Homo sapiens: one gene and its partners. The protein of the gene in region 2 interacts with the protein of the main gene of each other region in a pairwise test. Each region holds a gene or a part of one and is shown on either strand. Other genes may lie near its edges.

Region 1 (3,653 bases), on a different chromosome or scaffold from region 2:
ACCCCCAGGGTTGGCTGCATTTTGAGTTGTGGAAGAAAGCAATGCCTCCAGTAAGGGAATGACCGCTAACAGTGGCATTCCAGCTTGGCAGGGAAATCAGAGAGGGACTTAAGGAAAGGAATGGCTTCTCAGTCCCCTCAGAGGACACTGTGGGACAGTGGCTGGTCAATGTTCTTCTTGGGGATGCTCTGGAGACCGCTGCTGGCCCCGAGTACAGGGAGGGGACTGCCTATTTTCAGGACTACTCATTAGAGCCTGGGAGAAGGTGGAGAAGAACCCCTTGAGCAGCTAAGTCCCCTTTTCTTTCCCTGTCTCTCCAAGCCCCAGGGGCCAGAATCCACTTTGGCAGGGAGAGGGCCCTGGAAGGGTATCTTACCTGGCATTTTCCGGTGAATCTGCTGGAACATTCTCCGGTACCAGTCTCTGGGTCTGTCAACGCTCTGGGATCAGAAAATGCAAAGTCAGTCCTCCCTGCTTATTCACCCTCCCAATTTCAAGCCACAAAAATCTTTCCCTAGTGAGTCCCTTCTCTGGCCATCCCTGAACCCCCCATAGGTGGGCTGGGAAATGCTTCTCTTGCGATCTCTTTAATAACAATAGCTTCATGTAACACGTCCTATATAAGTAAGATATATGACAAGATCTCCATCGAAGTGTATGCAATAATGATGTTATGAGATTTGGGGCAATTTACATTTTTTCTCTTTGCTTTTCTTTATGTCTAGTGTTTCTACAAAGAACATTTTTCTTTTGTGGGGAGACAGGGTCTCCTGTGTCACACAGGCTGGAGTGCAGTGGCATGATCATAGCTCACTGCAGCCTCCAATTCCTGGGCTCAAGCAATCATCCTGCCTCAGCCTCCTGAGTAGCTGGAACTACAGTCGTGCACCACCTTGCCTAGCTAATTTTATTTTATTTTTTTTTTTATAGAGACAGGGTCTCACTATGTTGCCCAGGCTGGTCTGGAACTCTTGGTTTCAAGCAATCCTCCCGCCTTGACCTCCCAAAGTGCTGGGATTACAGGCGTGAGTCACTGCACCTGGGCCAAAAATGACAGCAATAATGTAGGAGTGAGATGCGTGTTTCACATCACCTGCTTCATCCAAGCCTCAAAACAGCCTCAAAACAGGAAGGGAATGTTACCAGCTCCAATTTCCAGATGAGAAAATGGAGCTGGCTCAAGACACAAAGGTGGATGGAAAAGGGCAGGGTATCCCCAGTCCTAACTGGACCCCCGGATCCTTCCACGCTTGCCACAGTGAGAGACCTTCTCACACAAGACTCACTCACTCATTCGGCCGGTCAGTCATTCATTCAGCAACCATTTCATGAGCGTCGTGACAGGCCCTGGGGATATGAAACTAAGAGAGGGTCCCCTGCAGCCTCAGGCCTTACAGCAGGGGTTCTCTACCTTTGAGGCCCTGATGAGAGTTCTAGATCTGTACCCCGCACAAACCACTTGAGCAACTCAGGCACACGAGGGTGTCTGCAGCTTTATGAGGTTTACAGCCGCTGAACCCCACCACGGTTGAACCCCTGCTTAATCTGGGATGGTTTGGGTGCGGCCTTTATTGCCCCACCCCCATTTTAATGCACAGAAGTGCAGCTCCCTGTAGATCCCTGGGCCCCATCTCTCCGTGGCCCCCAGCCCTGGACTCACGGATCGGGGGGCAATGGGCATGCCGCTCTCGTCCACGGGCCCGATTCCCTCGTACTTGACCCAGCGCTTGTCCCGACGCTTGCTGTCCTTGGTCCACGTGGCTGACCAGTTCTGGGTGTGCTGGGAGGCAGGGATCTTTGTGCTTGCAGAGGGCTTGCTCCCAGGGCCTGGCCAGGTCTGATACCACGCAGGGTCTGTTGGGTGCGTGCAGGAGAGCATTAGTGAAAGGCAGGGGTCTCCACCTGAACCTGTGTGTCCCTTAGCTCCTCAGAGCATGGATCTCTGTGGGTTCAAAGTTTCAACATCGCCTTGTTTGTTTGAGTGGATGACTCAGAGCACCACGGGCCTCTGTTTGTTTAAGTGAATTTAAATGGATTTGATCTTGAGAATGCCGTGCCTGGCCCTACCCCCATCCTTCTTTCCTGGGACTATCCTAAGTGCTTTCAGAATAAGGTCTGGAAATCATTACTTGTAGAGAATGCAGGGGACATCCCAGCTGGGGTGTGGCAGTAAAGATGCTGGGCTTAGAGGGGACAGACTTGAATTCAGACCCCAGCTCTACCACCTATTGGCTGCCATGGCCTGGGGTACATCAGTCACCTTCTCAGTGTCTCAGTTTCCACTTCTGTAAAACAAGGGTCATTGTGACAAGGATTCAGTGACATCTAGCGTGTGTGACTGTACCCAGCACAGTGCCTGGCACACAGTCGAGAGGCTCTCAGTGAAGGTCAGAAACCCATTCCCCAGACATGGTTGTGACTGAGTCCTCAACTTACCCATAAGTGTTAGCCTCTAAGTAGCTAGGGCAGCAGAATAAGGGCTTTGAGGCCAGATGTACAAGTGTGTGAATTGCAGCTCAGCCTCTATGGCTGAACATCTCTGCGAATGGGGTTCCTTACTGGGAAGCTGTCAGTCATCATCACCCCTACTTTGTCAGGATATCGAGGGGTTAAACGAGGTGAGCCTCGTAAAGTGTTTTTACAGTGTCCAGCACGCTCTGGGTGTTCCATAATTGTGTGGGTGTTTTTTTTGGTTTTGTTTTGTTTTTGTTTTTGTTTTGAGACAGTTTTGCTCTTGTTGCCCAGGCTGGAGTGCAGTGGCACGATCTCAGCTCACTGCAACCTCCACCTCCCAGGTTCAAGTGATTCTCCTGCCTCAACCTCCCAAGTAGCTGGGATTTCAGGCACCCGCCACCACACCCAGCAAATTTTTGTATTTTTATTAGAGATGGGGTTTCACCATGTTGGCCAGGCTGGTCTCGAACTCCTGACCTCAGGTCATCCACACACCTCAGCCTCTCAGTGTGTGTGTGTTTTAAGTGACAGGGTCTTGCTGTGTCATCCAGGCTGATAGAGACAGGGTCTTGCTATGTTGCCCAGGCTGGATAATTGTTAAATGAATAAATTCCTTTACACAGCACCTGTCTTAGGGGAATGCTTGATAAAGGATGTCACTTTAGGAGAGACATGTTCAGGGCTGGCCTGCACCCAGGAGTTCCCAGGACCTCTGGACTGGGATCTAGAACTGCCTCTCTAACCTCCTGCTGGGTAGCCTGTTGGGCCTGAATGGGACAGTCTCCACCCCTTCCCAAGCCAACAGATACCCACATCACCTCCACCCTTCCATCCCCAGTCCCTGTGGGAGGTCCTCCGGCGCCCAGGGCTCCTGCACGCTTCCTTTCCCTGGCACCAGGCTGGAGGGCAGGGGAAGGGATGCATCAGCCTGCTCTCCCCAAGCGGGTGTCTCTTGCAGAGTCAGCAGGCTCCGCAGGGAGGGGCTCATAGTGAGCCCAGAGGCCTCTGAGGAACCTCCTCATGGCCTTGAGAACCCCATCTCCAGCTGCTGCCCCTCCCGCTTGACACAGGGCAGTGCCAGATGGCAGGGCCCTGACCCTCCATCTCCAGCATGAGGCTCCTGAGCAGACCTACCCGGGTGCTGGGAAGCATCTCGTCTTGGTGTGTAGCCCCCATTGCACACAGTCCTGGGCGCGGGG
Region 2 (3,653 bases):
AAACAGGGGCACTGAAAAGGGAAAGTAATCACTCTGCCTGTGGAGCCCATTTTATTATAAGTGCCTGAAACTAAGTTATCCTGAATAAAATCTTGACTTTTCTTTTAGAATGTGGGTGAATAAAATATACATGCAGAGGTATTTTTGGTAGCCAGTGCTTCTTGGCTTTCGATCTGAGGTTTGTCGGAATCCTAAAATGATAGGGTACTAGTTGGCTTAAATTGAAATCTCAGATAGTCGGACCGATTGTGAGCACAGAAATGGCAATAATATTTAACATGCATCCGCTGTGGGCGATGGGTCATTGGTTTACTATGCAAACATAACAATTTGTCTCTTGAATGTGCAGAAGATACTTTAAAGTTCTCAATTTATTTGCCAACAATTAGGAGATATTTTATTAAAGGGGTATAAAATAGAAATACATAGCTTTGTACACTAAGTGCCAAGAATGTGCATGCTGAAAAAGAAAAAGCACACTTTTCTTGATTGTATTTAACACTGTGAAATTTAGATATTTATACTATAAGGACAGCATATTTGTGGAAGATTTTCCTTGTACATGATGAGGAATATCTAAAATATTTACCATGAATCAATACTGCTTTTATAATACAAAGTAAATCAGGCAATTTCATGCCTTCTTAAGGCATTTCTGATAACAAATCTATAGGTGAGAAGAAAATAAGTAGGGATATCTCTAATGGTACTTGTTAATATGCAATTCTAGCCATATGAACAGTACAGGTGTTGATGATTTTCTCTGGAGAGTAGATGGACGAGATGTACATAGTAACAACAGTGGTGGCAGTAATATTTATATAAAAGGTTGAACTTACTAGCAGGAGCAGCATGCCAGCTGTTGCCTGGAAAATAGCTTTACATTAGAGCAGTGAGGAATTCTTGGTTTCTTTCTCTCATTTTATCTCCCTTCCCCCATGTACTTCCCCAAAGTATTGCATTTTAATTTCTGTGATGAAAAATCAGTCCAGTGTGAAAATGGGAAAACAATGCTATGCCATTCATGAAGGTAGCTAAGTTGGAAAACACCAGCATGGAGTTTTTGCTGATGTGCTGGTGCCTGATGATGAGAGGGACCCCAGCTGGATTGTGAAGATTGTGGGCACACACAAAATTGATAAAATGCCTTCACTTAGTTTTTGACAGCTTTAATAGCTGACTCAGTCCAGCTGTAAGTAGTAAGTAAATAAGTAAGTTTCATTTACTACCATGCAAGTAAAATGGAAAAGCTCACTATAAATTTTAACTGCTAAATACTATTTATCATTTGTTCAATTCATTCATCACTAGGTATAAAGTTTATTTAATTATTCACGTATACACTCAGTCTTTCATTCAATAAATATTTACCGAATGTGCCAGTATGCAGTAAACATTTACTGAATGAAAAATTTAGGATATGATATATAGAGATGTACATCATGTACGATGAACAGTGGACAAGGTTGAAAAATGTACAGTGTACACGTACAGTGTAGCAGTGAACAAGGTTGATAAAGGCCCTGAGCTTGACAGATGAGACAGACAATAAACAAACTTGCCAACAGACATGCCAGTCACAGGTAGCTATAAGTGATGGGACAGGCATACACAGGGTGATGGGAGAAAATATGTGCACACACAGGGAAGAGTAGTGGGGAGAGGGGATACGACGGCGAGGTGGATCCTGGGTATAAGATGATTGGCGGAAGTCTTTCTAAGGCTGTAATAACTGAGGTGAGACCTGAAAGAATAAATGAGGGAGACTTTCAATGTGAAAGTGGTTTCACATAGTCAGTGGTGTCTGGTGGACTCAGAACTAAGGTGATTTTGCTTTGAATGATGTCATTTGTGTACAGTGATGATATTCCGAGTTGACCCAGGAGCTAACCAGTTACAAAAGACACTGGCTGGCCCTATTGGAGAGCCTTGGAGCACCCTGTTAGGTCAGTAGTAAGCCCTGAATTCCTGGGCTGTTGTGAGACCTCAGGGGAGGACCTGGGGCAGCTGGGTGGCACTCGGAGAGCTTGGGGACACAGCCATTTCTCTATTATGGTATGGAAATATTTCCCTGCTTACACAAGCAATGTGGCATGTGTGACAGCTTGTGTGTAATTCTCTGATCCAAGGAATTTTTATTAACCAATTGTAGTTACAGACCACCTTTATATTCTGGCCACTTCACGTAGTTTAGTGGAAAAAAGTAACCGTTGAATTCTGGTTTTCAATGTTGGCAGTCACATGATTTTACAGTCTGAGTCACATTTGGCGGAAGTACTCTTAGGAAATTGGGTTTTTTTCTCCCAAGAAGGTAATCAACCTAACTCTGTGTCTTTTATAGGCGGCATCACTGTCCACATCTCCCTACCAAGATTTATGATAAAACAGAGAAACCATGTCTTCTCTCCGAATATACCGAGAACTACCCTTTCTATCACTCCTACCTGCCCAGAGAGTCCTTCAAGCCAAGGCGGGAGTACCAGAAAGGGCCTATACCAATGGAAGGCCTGACTACATCAAGGTGAGGGCAAACAGTATTAATGTATGCAGGTACATACAACACTAATGGAGTAACATGCAGTGCTAATGTATAATATTAATGTAATGTGCAGTGCTAATGCATTAATGTGCAGTATCAACATATGATATTAATGCCTTAATGTACTATATCTCTGAAGGAATATCCTGCATTTATGAGCCTTCTCAGTTTTTTCCAAATTCTCTGTTAAAGAGAAAGGATTCTTGCTTGCTGAAGTAAAGGGTGGGGAAAGGCTGGATTAATCTATATAATATAGGATTGGAGGTTAAGAAAAATATTTAAGGGATGGAAAGAGTGGGGGATGTTGCTGAAAAGCAAGTTTTGGGCTTTGTTACATGAAAAGCTCCAGGCCAGCTTGGGTAGGTGGGGGATGGTGGTGGTGGTGGTGAAAGGGAACTTGGCAATAGAGAAAAAATGAGCTTTTTTTTCTCCCCTTAAAATTATGCTGCTGTAAATTTTGAATTGGGGTTCTCCTGAATGTTCTTCAAGAAAGATGAACAAATAATGTTTTGCTTTTAAATTATTCTTGACTCCCAAACTAAGATTGTTTAGCTCTAGGTCTGTGCAGAGGCTGAGCCACATGGTTCAGTATATTAGCGTTGCAGAGGTGTTTCTACTGAGGGGGTGCAGAAAAGTTATCAGTTCAGGGTTGGTCTATAAGCAAGGCTCTTGCAGAATCTGCCATGGACAACTCAGTTAGTGACCTGTGACTGGTGATCTAGTAGAGTGGAAACATCTTTGAGTGCAGTTGGGCAGTCTCAGATTGTATAGTTTTGTCCTTAGCTGAGCCCTGAAAGATTGATGTGTTCTCTGCCTTCCCGGTTCCTCATCCCTAAAGGGCAGGGTTGCTGTGAGGTGGAGATGATGGTGAATGTTGACTGTTCCAGCACAATGCTTGCACATCGGTGCCTCAGACCTGGTGACTTTTCTTCCTATTGCTCCCTTTTGCTTCATGATTTTGTGCTAGTAAAGGTCCCAGATGGTCTAGGTGAAGCAGAACCATTCTAATTCATTCTGCCTTCAGGTTTTCTCCAGAATAGGACTGGAAACATCTGAGACTGTGAGTTGGAGGTGCTCTTCTCTACACAATGCTGCCATCTTCTAGATCCACGGG
Region 3 (3,653 bases), on a different chromosome or scaffold from region 2:
CAGAGGGTGATTGTGAGAATCTGCTTTTAATCACAATAGTTAGTTGATTTAAATATCGCATGTCCTGGGTACTCTGAAGCTTTAGTGTGATGAAAGGTTCACTTGAGTCTGTGGATCACTGAATCGTTGTCATCGTTAGAGGAAAAAGTGTTTTGGTAGGTTTTGGTAGGGGGAGTCAGCAAGGTGAAATGTGCAGGACTGTGTGCTGGTCCTGGCCAGCCCATGTGCAAATAGCTTCACTTTCTAAAGGGATATCAGAATGGTGCTTTGGGAGGAACTTGAATATTGTGGTGAAACACTCCTAAATTCAAATCTGAGCCATGCTGGGAATTTGGACAACTTCCTTACTGGACAACTTCCTCTAAGCCTCAGTTTCCTCATTTGCAGAGCGGGGATAGTAATATGCTTCTCACTAGTTGTTATAAGGGTGTTGATAAATGTGTACCTCAGAGCCAGGCCCACTCTCATGCCTCTAGCCTTATCTGCCTGAAGCCCGTCTTCCATACAAGTGTCAAATGATCATTCTGCAGCTTTTCATTTAACATGTGTTGTTTAATCAGTTTTTAAATGTGAAATATGTACATTTGAAAAACAGAATAGAAAGTTATAATGGGAAGAAAGTTTCTCATTTCCCACTATTTCTCTACTTGCCAGCATTGTGTATGTGCGTGTGTATGCGTGTGTGTGTGTTTACGTAGCTGGGCATTATGTGTTCTCTTCTTCAACTTGGTGTATTTCCTTTCTGTATCTTAGACATCTTTCCACATTGATACATAAAGTCCTTGCATTCTGTTGAATGGCCTTGTTGTACTTCTGTGCCATAATTTATTCAGTCCATCCACAGTGTGCATTTTAGATTACTTCTAGTTTTTTGCCTGTTACAAGAAGTGTTACAAACATGCTTGCACAAATATGTTTGGATACTTGTACACGTATTTGTCAGATACACTTAGAGAATTGTGTTTGCCAGTTTAGGATATGCAGTTAACATTTTTATTAGCCAGATCTATATTCCATCTAAAAAAATGTTTTACCACTTCTCAGCTCTCACTGACGTGTATGAAAGTGCCTGTTTCCTCATGCCTCGGTCGATACTGTGAACAAACTTGAGCTCAGGTCTTGCCTCCTCCAGGAAACCTCCTTGTAGCGTTCCCTCCCAGTTTTGAGTTGCTCATAGCCTGGAAGGGAGGCAGACCCTACAAAGGCTGTGACAGTGCAGCCTGGCGGGCGCTGCTGAGTGCACAAGTGGCAAGGAGGGAGCCCTGTGCTGGACGGATGGTGGCAGCACAGCCTGGGAGCTGAGGGGGAGGAACCAGCACCGGCTGGTGTGGGAAGTGGAGGCAGCGAATGCAGGCTTTAGTGTATTGCTAATGTGGTTTCATGAAGAATTCTTGTACTTCCCGATTTGTAAAACTGTTTTCTGAGCCCCAGTTGATGGTCCATTTTGTTGAAATATCATCTCAATAGAGTTGACTCATGAATAGCTAAATTACACACCTTCTCAGGTGGCCTTAAGTTTCTTTCTCTTGCTCTCACAAAGCCCAAACTTGACAGAGAAGGTGGCTTTAACAGGTTTTCACTTAGGTGACTTTTTTCTCCTGCATAATAAGGGTACCTTATTTTAATTTTATAATTATTTTAAATCTTTTTGTTTGTTTGTTTTTGAGATGGAGTCTCGCTGTGGCCCAGGCTGGAGTGGCACGATCTCAGCTCACTGCAATCTCCACCTCCCGGTTCAAATGATTCTCCTGCATCAGCCTCCCAAGTAGCTGGGATTACAGGCACGCACTACCACACCCGGCTAATTTTTGTATTTTTAGTAGAGATGGGGCTTCACCATGTTGGCCAGGCTGTTCTCAAACTCCTGACCTCAAGTGATTCCCCCACGTTGGCCTCCCAAAGTGCTGGGATTACAGGTGTGAGCCACCATGCCCGGACTATTTTAAATCTTGAGATGGAATTACAATTCTAAAACCTAATATGAGTGAATATACTCCCCAAATTTAAAAAAGTTAACCTAATATTGTCATAGTCCAAATATAGGTTGAAAGCAGTTATAGCAGGGAGAGTTGCAGAGTTGGTCAGCAGGGTTGAGATTGATCTGTCAGTCCCAACGTGGACACGGGGTCCTGAATGGGGGGTGGCTCTGTGCCATGAGGTAGTTAAGGAATCCAGCTGGTGGGCAGCTTTCCATCTACAGCATGTGACTTCCATCTCTGGGTCTGTGACAGCTGATCCCTCAGCCAGCAGCAAGGAAGAAAGATTGGAGGGCAAGCAGCTTTCTGTAAAGAAAAATAAAAGTGATCTGGAAGTTGCATACATCACTTCTACCCACATCTTATTAGTCAGAACTTGGTCATCTGGCCATACCTGGCTGCTGGGAAAGCTGCCAGGCGTCGTCTCTAGTTGGGCAGCCATTTATCTAGCAGGAAGGGGAAGGAAGGCTTCTCTTATGAAAGCGAGGAAGGGAGGGATGGATCCTGGAGCACCTCAGCGCCTGTGTCGCACCTCTGATGTTTTGACGGCTTCCACAGCCCTCAGGACTGAGGCCAGACGGCTCTGCGTGGCTTCTGGGGCTCATAGTGATCTGGCCTCCTTTTCTCTCTCCAGCTTCACTCGCCCTCTACCCAGCAAGTCCCTAGTGACTTGTCACATTCCGAATGTGCCTCCGCCTCTGCTGCTTCTCCTCCCATTCCCCCAAATCTTCTTCACCCTACTGGGTTTAGGACCCTTGGTGTGCAGGGCCTCCTCCTGAGTGTGCGCTCACTGAGGGCAGGCGAGTGTCCTGGCATGGTACCTCACCATCCACAGCGGGTGCTCAGTACATGCTTGCAAGTAACTGTGTTGCTGGTGTGTTGACGGCATAGCAGAGGAACAGCCACCCTCCGTAAAGCAGGTGGTAGTGGGTGCCTGCCTTTTTGCTGAGTTGTCTCTAATCCTTTGCACTTGTACCCCGCTAGCCAAGCTCAGCAGTTCGCTGTGTCTGGACACAGTCAGTTTGAGCTCTGTGGCTCTACTGTCCATCTCTGGCAAAAGAGTCTGAGGGCGGATGCCGCCTCCTCCTTGAAGCCGTCCTTGTCTTCTGCCCCTGCCAGTGGGTAGGATCTCTTTTGCCTTTTGATTTTGTTTACATTGTGCTTATGGCCCTTACCGCACTGTGACTTGTAATATAGATAATGGACTCACTGCTCGCGCTTCTCCCCCAAATAGTGAAGTACATGTTGTTTCAAGACTGGTTGCTAGCTGACTATGGCATATCTTTTGCTATACTTACCACTTTCGTGCATAAAGGTACCCCCTAAATGTTGAGTGGAATTGTTTCAGCCTCTTGCAAACTGTAAATAAGCTAATCTTTAGAAAGGATCTTCCTTTAGATATCAGTAAAATGGAGCAGCACTGTGGGGAATCAGATCAACAAAGGTTTATTGAATGCTCACAGTGCCCCAAAGACCAGCTTCCTGTCCTCCTGTCCTTGGAGTATGAGATGCCATGAGCAAGACAGACCTGCCTCGCACCTCCTATAGCTTAGAGCACAGTGACCTGCCAGCCTGGAGAGCTCCTGAGTCCCCTTCTCACAGCAGTGTGGGCTAGGCAGGTGTTCCAGCTCACTCAGCCCTAGATTGCTCCCAGGTAACACGGGACTGAGACTCCTG

Evidence for each region.
Region 1: the proteins of SAXO1 (region 2) and SORBS3 interact in binary tests that used the Homo sapiens proteins (3 or more experiments, as listed by UniProt).
Region 3: the proteins of SAXO1 (region 2) and MAPK9 interact in binary tests that used the Homo sapiens proteins (3 or more experiments, as listed by UniProt).

The regions. Positions count from the first base shown.
Region 1 is NC_000008.11:22,554,916-22,558,568, reverse strand, and holds part of SORBS3 (vinexin), read right to left. Parts: coding exon 3,589-3,653; intron 1,855-3,588; coding exon 1,661-1,854; intron 441-1,660; coding exon 377-440; intron 1-376. UniProt on the Homo sapiens protein: Vinexin alpha isoform promotes up-regulation of actin stress fiber formation. Vinexin beta isoform plays a role in cell spreading and enhances the activation of JNK/SAPK in response to EGF stimulation by using its third SH3 domain.
Region 2 is NC_000009.12:18,949,626-18,953,278, reverse strand, and holds part of SAXO1 (stabilizer of axonemal microtubules 1), read left to right. Parts: intron 1-2,341; coding exon 2,342-2,521; intron 2,522-3,653. UniProt on the Homo sapiens protein: May play a role in the regulation of cilium length. Stabilizes microtubules at low temperature.
Region 3 is NC_000005.10:180,281,939-180,285,591, reverse strand, and holds part of MAPK9 (mitogen-activated protein kinase 9), read left to right. Parts: intron 1-3,653. UniProt on the Homo sapiens protein: Serine/threonine-protein kinase involved in various processes such as cell proliferation, differentiation, migration, transformation and programmed cell death.